Homo sapiens: one gene and its partner. The protein of the gene in region 1 interacts with the protein of each later gene in a pairwise test. Each region holds a gene or a part of one and is shown in the gene's direction. Other genes may lie near its edges.

Evidence for each region.
Region 2: the proteins of SOX30 (region 1) and GP2 interact in a two-hybrid assay, tested with the Homo sapiens proteins (one large-scale study listed by BioGRID and IntAct).

What each region holds. Positions count from the first base shown.
Region 1 is NC_000005.10:157,635,347-157,639,165, reverse strand, and holds part of SOX30 (transcription factor SOX-30), read left to right. Parts: intron 1-443; coding exon 444-936; intron 937-3,819. UniProt on the Homo sapiens protein: Acts both as a transcriptional activator and a repressor. Binds to the DNA sequence 5'-ACAAT-3' and shows a preference for guanine residues surrounding this core motif. Binds to its own promoter and activates its own transcription.
Region 2 is NC_000016.10:20,320,859-20,324,677, reverse strand, and holds part of GP2 (pancreatic secretory granule membrane major glycoprotein GP2 isoform 2 precursor), read left to right. Parts: intron 1-421; coding exon 422-862; intron 863-1,288; coding exon of another isoform or gene 1,289-1,297; intron 1,298-1,698; coding exon 1,699-1,809; intron 1,810-3,819. UniProt on the Homo sapiens protein: Functions as an intestinal M-cell transcytotic receptor specific for type-I-piliated bacteria that participates in the mucosal immune response toward these bacteria. At the apical membrane of M-cells it binds fimH, a protein of the bacteria type I pilus tip.

The sequences.
Region 1 (3,819 bases):
AATAGCTTCATATTATTATTATTTTTAAATGTATATATGCATACCAGCATTTATGTGTTTTCAGTCTTTTAATATATCTATCAATAATTTTATTCATTTGTTTATTCATCTAAAAAATATTTGTTGAGGGCCTCTTCTGCCCCAGACAGAATGTTTCACCCTGGGGATACAGCAGCAAACGAAACAGAAAACGTTGCTCTTCTCATGGCACTTAGAGTCTAGTTGAGAGAGAGAGACAAAAAATGTAAATGAACAAGAAAACAAGATAACTTCAGTTTGTTCAAAATGCTGCAAATGAAATAGAGTGGTTTGATATGATGATGCAGTTAGGTAAGGTGATTGATGAAGGCCTCTGCTTATACAATTTATTAAACTTTACTGAAAGAAGAAAAACATGGAATGACTCAGTTAATTCTTGATTTATGCTATTTTTATTTCTAAAGGTGAAACCTCACCTGCTATCCAGCTGCCCACACCTGCAGTCCAGAGCCCAAGCCCTGTCACACTTTTCCAGCCCAGCGTCTCCAGTGCTGCTCAGGTGGCTGTCCAGGATCCAAGTCTACCTGTCTATCCAGCACTCCCACCCCAACGCTTTACTGGGCCTTCCCAAACAGACACTCATCAGCTGCATTCTGAAGCCACTCACACTGTGAAGCAACCCACTCCTGTCTCTCTAGAGAGCGCCAACAGGATTTCAAGTAGTGCAAGTACTGCCCATGCCAGATTTGCAACTTCGACCATCCAACCTCCTAGGGAGTATTCCAGCGTTTCCCCTTGTCCCAGAAGTGCTCCAATCCCCCAGGCTTCTCCCATTCCACACCCACATGTCTACCAGCCCCCTCCCCTTGGCCATCCAGCCACACTGTTCGGGACACCACCAAGATTCTCTTTTCATCACCCTTACTTCCTACCCGGACCTCACTACTTCCCATCAAGGTAAATTAACATTTTTTTTCCTTTTACCTAAACATTCAGCTAATGAGTTTTTACCTGTGACAACATTTTTTTGTTTATTTGTTTTTAAATACTGAAAAGCAGACTTCTTCAATTCTGCTGACTAGGAGCCAAGCAGTTAACATAAATAGATGGAGAGGGCCAGGTGAGGACTGGGGTAGCTAGGGAGAGTGCAGCTCTAACTCAGCTCCAGCTGACTCTTGTTACATAAGAATATAGGCTTCAGGCAGTGGCTCATGCCTGTAATTCCAGCACTTTGGGAGGCCAAGGTGGGTGGGTAACTCGAGGTCAGGAGTTTGAGACCAGCCTGGTCAACATGGTAAAACTCTGTCTCTACTAAAAATACAAAAATTAGCCAGGCGTGGTGGCACGTGCCTGTGATCCCAGCTACTCAGGAGGCTGAAGCAGGGGAATCACTTGAACCTGGGAGGCGGAGGTTGCAGTGAGCTGAGATCACACCAACTTCACTGCAGCCTGGGTGACCATCTCAAAAAAAAAAAGAACAAGAATATAGGCTTTAATGTTGGATATAATTTTTCATGCAAAATAACTATAAGGGACCTTAAGATCATTTAGTCAAATGTATTGAGGTGTACTTATTGTATAGAGGGGGTGCATCTCAAACTTTATTGTGTATATAAATCGTGGTATTTTGTTAAAAATGCAGATTCTGATTCATTGGGTCTGGGGTTTAGTAGTATCCTATATGGGAGTATAGTACGCCTGATATTTGGCATTTCTAGCAAGCTCCCAAGTGATTGCCAATTCTGCTGGTTTACGGACCACACTTTGAATAGCAAGGGTATAGAGGAGGGCACTTGGTCTACGTGAAAAATTGTTTATTTACCTAGGTTAAATGACTAGACCAAAGTTATACTACCTCTTTGTGCCCTTTTTACCAAATTAGAAAATTTCCCACATAAATTACCAATAAAGGAATTCATTTTCATAGGGAAGTATCTAGGGAAAACAAATGTGTAACTTCATTTTGGAATGATAGAAATTTAACTCCCTTGGAAGTATTTTGATAGAGTGGTATTAGCCTCTGCTTTCCATTTTTTTTTTTTTTTTTTTTTTTGAGGCGGAGTTTTGCTCTTGTTGCCCAGGCTGGAGTGCAATGGCGCGATCTTGGCTCACCACAGCCTCCGCCTCCCGGGTTCAAGCGATTCTCCTGCCTCAGCCTCCTGAGTAGTTGGGATTACAGGCATGCGTCACCACGCCTGGCTAATTTTTTTTGTGTGTTTTTAATAGAGATGGGGTTTCTCCATGTTGGTCAGGCTGGTCTTGAACTCCCGACCTCAGATAATCTGCCCATCTCGGCCTCCCAAGGTGCTGGGATTACATGCGTGAACCACCATTCCCGGCCTAGCCTTTACTTTTCAATTACTGTTAAATGTGTAGACAAAGATGGTTTCTGTTGAGACGGGAGTATTAAACTGTCTAACACCAATCTTTTATTGTTTCTTACTTAGCAAGTAAATCTACTTCCCATTAGGGTATACCTACACCTCAATAGAAACAACTTTTGAGGTATATATTATGTTGCTTCAATTTATAATCAATTGCTTGCTTTTGGGCCCTTAGCTCAGGACTGGAAGAAAGTGGGACCAGAGGATTAGATCAGGAGAAAGGAAGATTTTTGTCATCTAGGGTTTGTTTTGTTTTATGTAGAATCTTTTTATCTTTTGCAGCCTTAATAAGTATTTTAGTTCAAGGGATCAAACCTCAAGAGACTTTTAATTTAAGGCCGGGGAGGTTGATAATCTCTTTTCATTGCTATCTGCTAGGATCTAGGATTTTACAGGAATTTTGGAGAATTTTATAAAATGTTTCCTACATATAAGAAGAATATGAAGGGTGTAGATTGAATTTAATGAATGAGTAAATTTGAGAACACTTGGCCTTAGTTAGAATCTTGAGGCCTATAACAAAAATTGTGGAAAATTGTATCTGCTACATAATTAATTTTGTAATATGGGAAATGCTTGGACCCTATTTACTCACAGGATAGGTGAAGAAGAGTCAATTACAATGGGCTGTGTACCACAGTCTCACTCTAGCTGTTACTACTTTTTTGTTTGTTGCATTTTTCTTCTTTTTAGTGTTTTGAGAGCTAAGAATTTTTACACGTAGTTTTTATAACAATCCTGTGACTTGGGTATAATATTCCCCTACTTTTTCAGTTAAATAAATGGATTAGTAAATAGCCTCATCAAGGTTGTACAGTGGCAGAGCCAATAGTCAAATTCAGGTTTGATTGATTTTGAATTTCATATTTGTCTTTTTTACTATATCAGTAAGACTTCTTTTATGACAGCTCCTCTTGATTGGCAGCTGTTAGTTGCTAGCAGAGAATCATATGGAAAAAATATATTTTGAATAAAAACCTCACATAGTCAAGTGGACATTGGGGCAGGTAATTTTCCTTACATATTACATAGATTAAATCATAGAAGTCTATCTTATTTATTTGGGACAAGGCTTGTAAGATTTGACTGTTAATGTATAAATTATCTGACACTTTAAGGAACATTTTAAAAGGAAGCTCTTGAAAGTAAGTTCTTTGTTTTTGTTTTTGTTTTTTTTTTGAGACAGAGTCTTGCTCTGTCACCCAGGCTGGAGTGCAGTGGCGCAATCTTGGCTCACTGCAACCTCTGCCTTCCAGGTTCAAGCAATTCTCCTATCTCAGCCTCCCGAGTAGCTGGGACCACAGGTGCCTATCACCACACCCGGCTAATTTTTGTATTTTTAGTAGAGATGGGGTTTCACCATATTGGTCAGGCTGGTCTCGAACTCCTGACCTCAGGTGATCCACCTGCCTCAGCCTCCCAAACTACTGGGATTATAGGCATGAGCCACTGCTCC
Region 2 (3,819 bases), on another chromosome or scaffold:
TGTTACTTCTGGGGATGAGATGGGCTTATGACAACTTTCATTTCTGCTTTATTAATTTTAATGATGTTTGAGGTTCTTTTTCAGTGAGCCTGTATTACATTTATAATGAGAAAAACAAATATTGGTCAAACAAGGCTGCTGTTTGCATGATGCACAGGAAAGAACTTTGTTACTCTGAGGCAGGGAGGGAGGCTGTGCAGGACGGTAGCCCTGATGTCCTCAATGCCTGTAAAATACCACAGAAGGTCCTCACTGATTATTCTGCCCCCAAGGTGATGAAGTTGATGTTTAATTAATGGACCGTGTGTGTATTGTCCTCATTGGAGTCCTTAGCACAGCCAAAATAGAGCATGGAGGGGAAAAAATCCTGTAGGTTCTGGCATTGCTCAGTAAACCCAACTGCACTCTGTCACTTTCCCAGGTTATGGAAACCCCATTGAAGCCAGTTCGTATGGGCTGGACCTGGACTGCGGAGCTCCTGGCACCCCAGAGGCTCATGTCTGTTTTGACCCCTGTCAGAATTACACCCTCCTGGATGAACCCTTCCGAAGCACAGAGAACTCAGCAGGGTCCCAGGGGTGCGATAAAAACATGAGCGGCTGGTACCGCTTTGTAGGGGAAGGAGGAGTAAGGATGTCGGAGACCTGTGTCCAGGTGCACCGATGCCAGACAGACGCTCCCATGTGGCTGAATGGGACCCACCCTGCCCTTGGGGATGGCATCACCAACCACACTGCCTGTGCCCATTGGAGTGGCAACTGCTGTTTCTGGAAAACAGAGGTGCTGGTGAAGGCCTGCCCAGGCGGGTACCATGTGTACCGGTTGGAAGGCACTCCCTGGTGTAATCTGAGATACTGCACAGGTGAGCAGCAGAGCCCTGGAGGAGGCAGCTACACAGCCAATGAGATGCCTCCCAGGCTCAGTAGAGTGAGTGGAGCAAGTCAAGAGGAGACAGGAGAGGATGCAGAGCAGCCTCGACTCAGCTCCTGCCCAGTGAGAACTCAACACAGGGGTTGAGACCTTCCAACATTTCAAGCCAGAAATTCCCATTCAAGGGTGAAATTTCCCAGTTTATAAATGTGTGTAGCATAAAATCCAGAACTCATGCTCGTTCCGATTTTGGCTCCATTTGAGAAGTTTAATTTGCCTCCCTGAGCCTCAGTGTTCTGATCTGAAAAAAAGGGGGGGGGGGTACAGCAAAAATAACAGCTAATACATAATGCTCACAATGTCCTTGTTGCTATCCTAAGTACTTCAAATGTATTAACTCATTTGATCCTCTCCCCAGTTCCACGAGGTAAGTGCTACCTAATTACCCCAGTTAGGGGCACAGAGAGATTAAGGGGCTCTCCTAGTATCACAGAGCTGGAGCATGGTACAGCTGGGATTTGAACTTGGCATTCTAGCTCCAGCATCCATGGCCTTAACCACCATGCTGTCCTTTCTCATTTTGATTGAATAGGCTAATACATTCCTTGTCCTTAGAATAGAGTCTTGCCTGTAGTAAGTGTTCAGGTGGCAGCTTTAGGGCTCTCACTTATCCCATTGGACTGGGAGTCAGGCTTGATGCTTCCACTAAGTATCACACAACCTTGGCAAGATTCTTGTGCCCCGGTGAAATGAAAGGGTTGGACTTGGGGGCCTCAAGTCCAGCCCGCACTGCATCCTGATCTTCTCTCTCCATGCCCCATCACCTAGACCCATCCACTGTGGAGGACAAGTGTGAGAAGGCCTGCCGCCCCGAGGAGGAGTGCCTTGCCCTCAACAGCACCTGGGGCTGTTTCTGCAGACAGGACCTCAATAGTTCTGGTGAGCTGCTCACTGGGCAAGTAACTACCATCCTGAGGGGGCAGGGCAGGAGGGAGGGAGCTTTAGAGGGTCAAGATAAGGTATAAAGCAGAGTCAGGGGCATGGACCTGAGGTCAAGGGAATGTGGGCTCTCCAATCCATTTGCTGTAAAGCCAGTGGGTTTGCAAGGATAGGAGGGCAGGGTTGGAGCAAATTTCCAGGTCAGCTGCTGGGCCGTGGCCTCAGGAAATGGTTCTGACATGGGCAGGCTTGACCCCTGAGGGATGAAGACACTGAAGATGATAATTCTGCTAATGTAGGAGCTATGTTTTCATAGCCACAGGGTCTTCATGTCAGGGACATGGGCAGACTTCTGGGGACAAGTCACTACTGTCTCTGAGCCTGAATATCCTCATCTGTAAAATGAGGATAAGGTAATAATAATACCCACCATACAGGGCTATTGTGAGAACTAAATCAGAGCAGTCCAATTGGGCAGGCTCAGGAGGTGATGAATTTCTCGTCCCAGGAGGTAAGCAAGCAGAGTGAGATGTCCCATGGGTAGGGATGTCATAGACAAACAAGCACTAAGCCCTGGACAGGGGATGGATGAGCCTCCCACTGAGATTATTTCCCTCCATCACTGAACTCTAACAAGGGCCTTTGATCTTGCCTTTGGCACAAGCATGCCTTCCTCTGAGCACACTACAAGTCCCTATGGAAGAGAGAGTGTTCTAGGCAGCAGGACAAGAAGGAGCATGACACATTTGGAAAACGGAGCCACAGTGTGAACAGGGCGATGCTTAGATGTGCCCAGCAGAAGCACCCTGGGAAATGAGGGGTAGGGAACAACCAACAACCTTGATCTCCTTGAAGACTCTTTCTGCTCATTGAGTGGATAAGGCCCCAGAGATTCAGTGTGGTTTTCTGGGGTTTGGGCCCATCACAGAGTCAGATTTTGGGCTTTAAGGAGGCCCTCCCTGTACCTGGATGGGCTCCAAGGACAGTCTCAGCTGACTGAGTGAGCAGGTGGCCTGCCTCAAGTCTTCATCAGTGGCCAGCACAATGATGAGTGTCCAGTGGGCCCCATTGCTTGCAGACACATCCCTCTGTGCTCTGACTTTCACTTCCATCTCCTTCTCCCACACCCTGCTCTCATTTTAGGTTCCTGCGCCTCTGAACTCTGAAATTCCACAAATGCACCATTCCCTCTATCCCATCTCCATGCTTTTGCCTCTCCTGTTCCCTTAGCCTGGGATGCGTTCACTTGCTTTACTGACTTGCAAAACTCCTACCCACGTTTCAAATTTCATACCACTGTGAATCCTTCCCTGACTTCACCAAGAGACTCAGATAGACCTTCTTCTCTGCTCCCCCTGCATCTGTACATACTTCTGTCTGTATCTTTATCATATTGAAGTATAATAAACTGTTGATATGTTGGTGTTTACACAAGACCAAGAAATCCTCATGGGCCAAGTCCATGCCTTATTTACTTCATGTTGAATGCACCTAGCATTTGAGAAGGTGGTTGGTAAAGTGGCTCATGCCTGTAATCCCAACAGTTTGGGAGGCTGAGGCCGGCAGATCGCTTGAGGTCAGGAGTTTGAAACCAGCCTGGCCAATATGGCAAAACCCCATCTTTATAAAAATACAGAAATTAGCCAGGTGTGGTGGCTCATGCCTGTAATCCCATGCCTGTAATCCCAGCCTTGGGAGGCTGAGGCAGGAGAATCACTTGAATCCAGGAGGCAGAGGTTGCAGTGAACTGAGATTGGACCACTGCACTCCAGCCTGGGCAACACAGCAAAACTCTGTCTAAAAAAAAAAAAAAAAAAGAGAGACAGAGAGAGAGATAATGTGGTTGGTAAATATATATTGAATCAATGCATTAATGAATGCAATAGAAACTGTCTTCCTATTAGTTTACTATTTGTCTCCCCTATTCAACTGTTAGCTCTATAAGAGTGGGAATTTTTTCAGTTTTGATAAGTGTTGTAGCCCCAGTGCCTGGCAGATAGTAGATTCTCA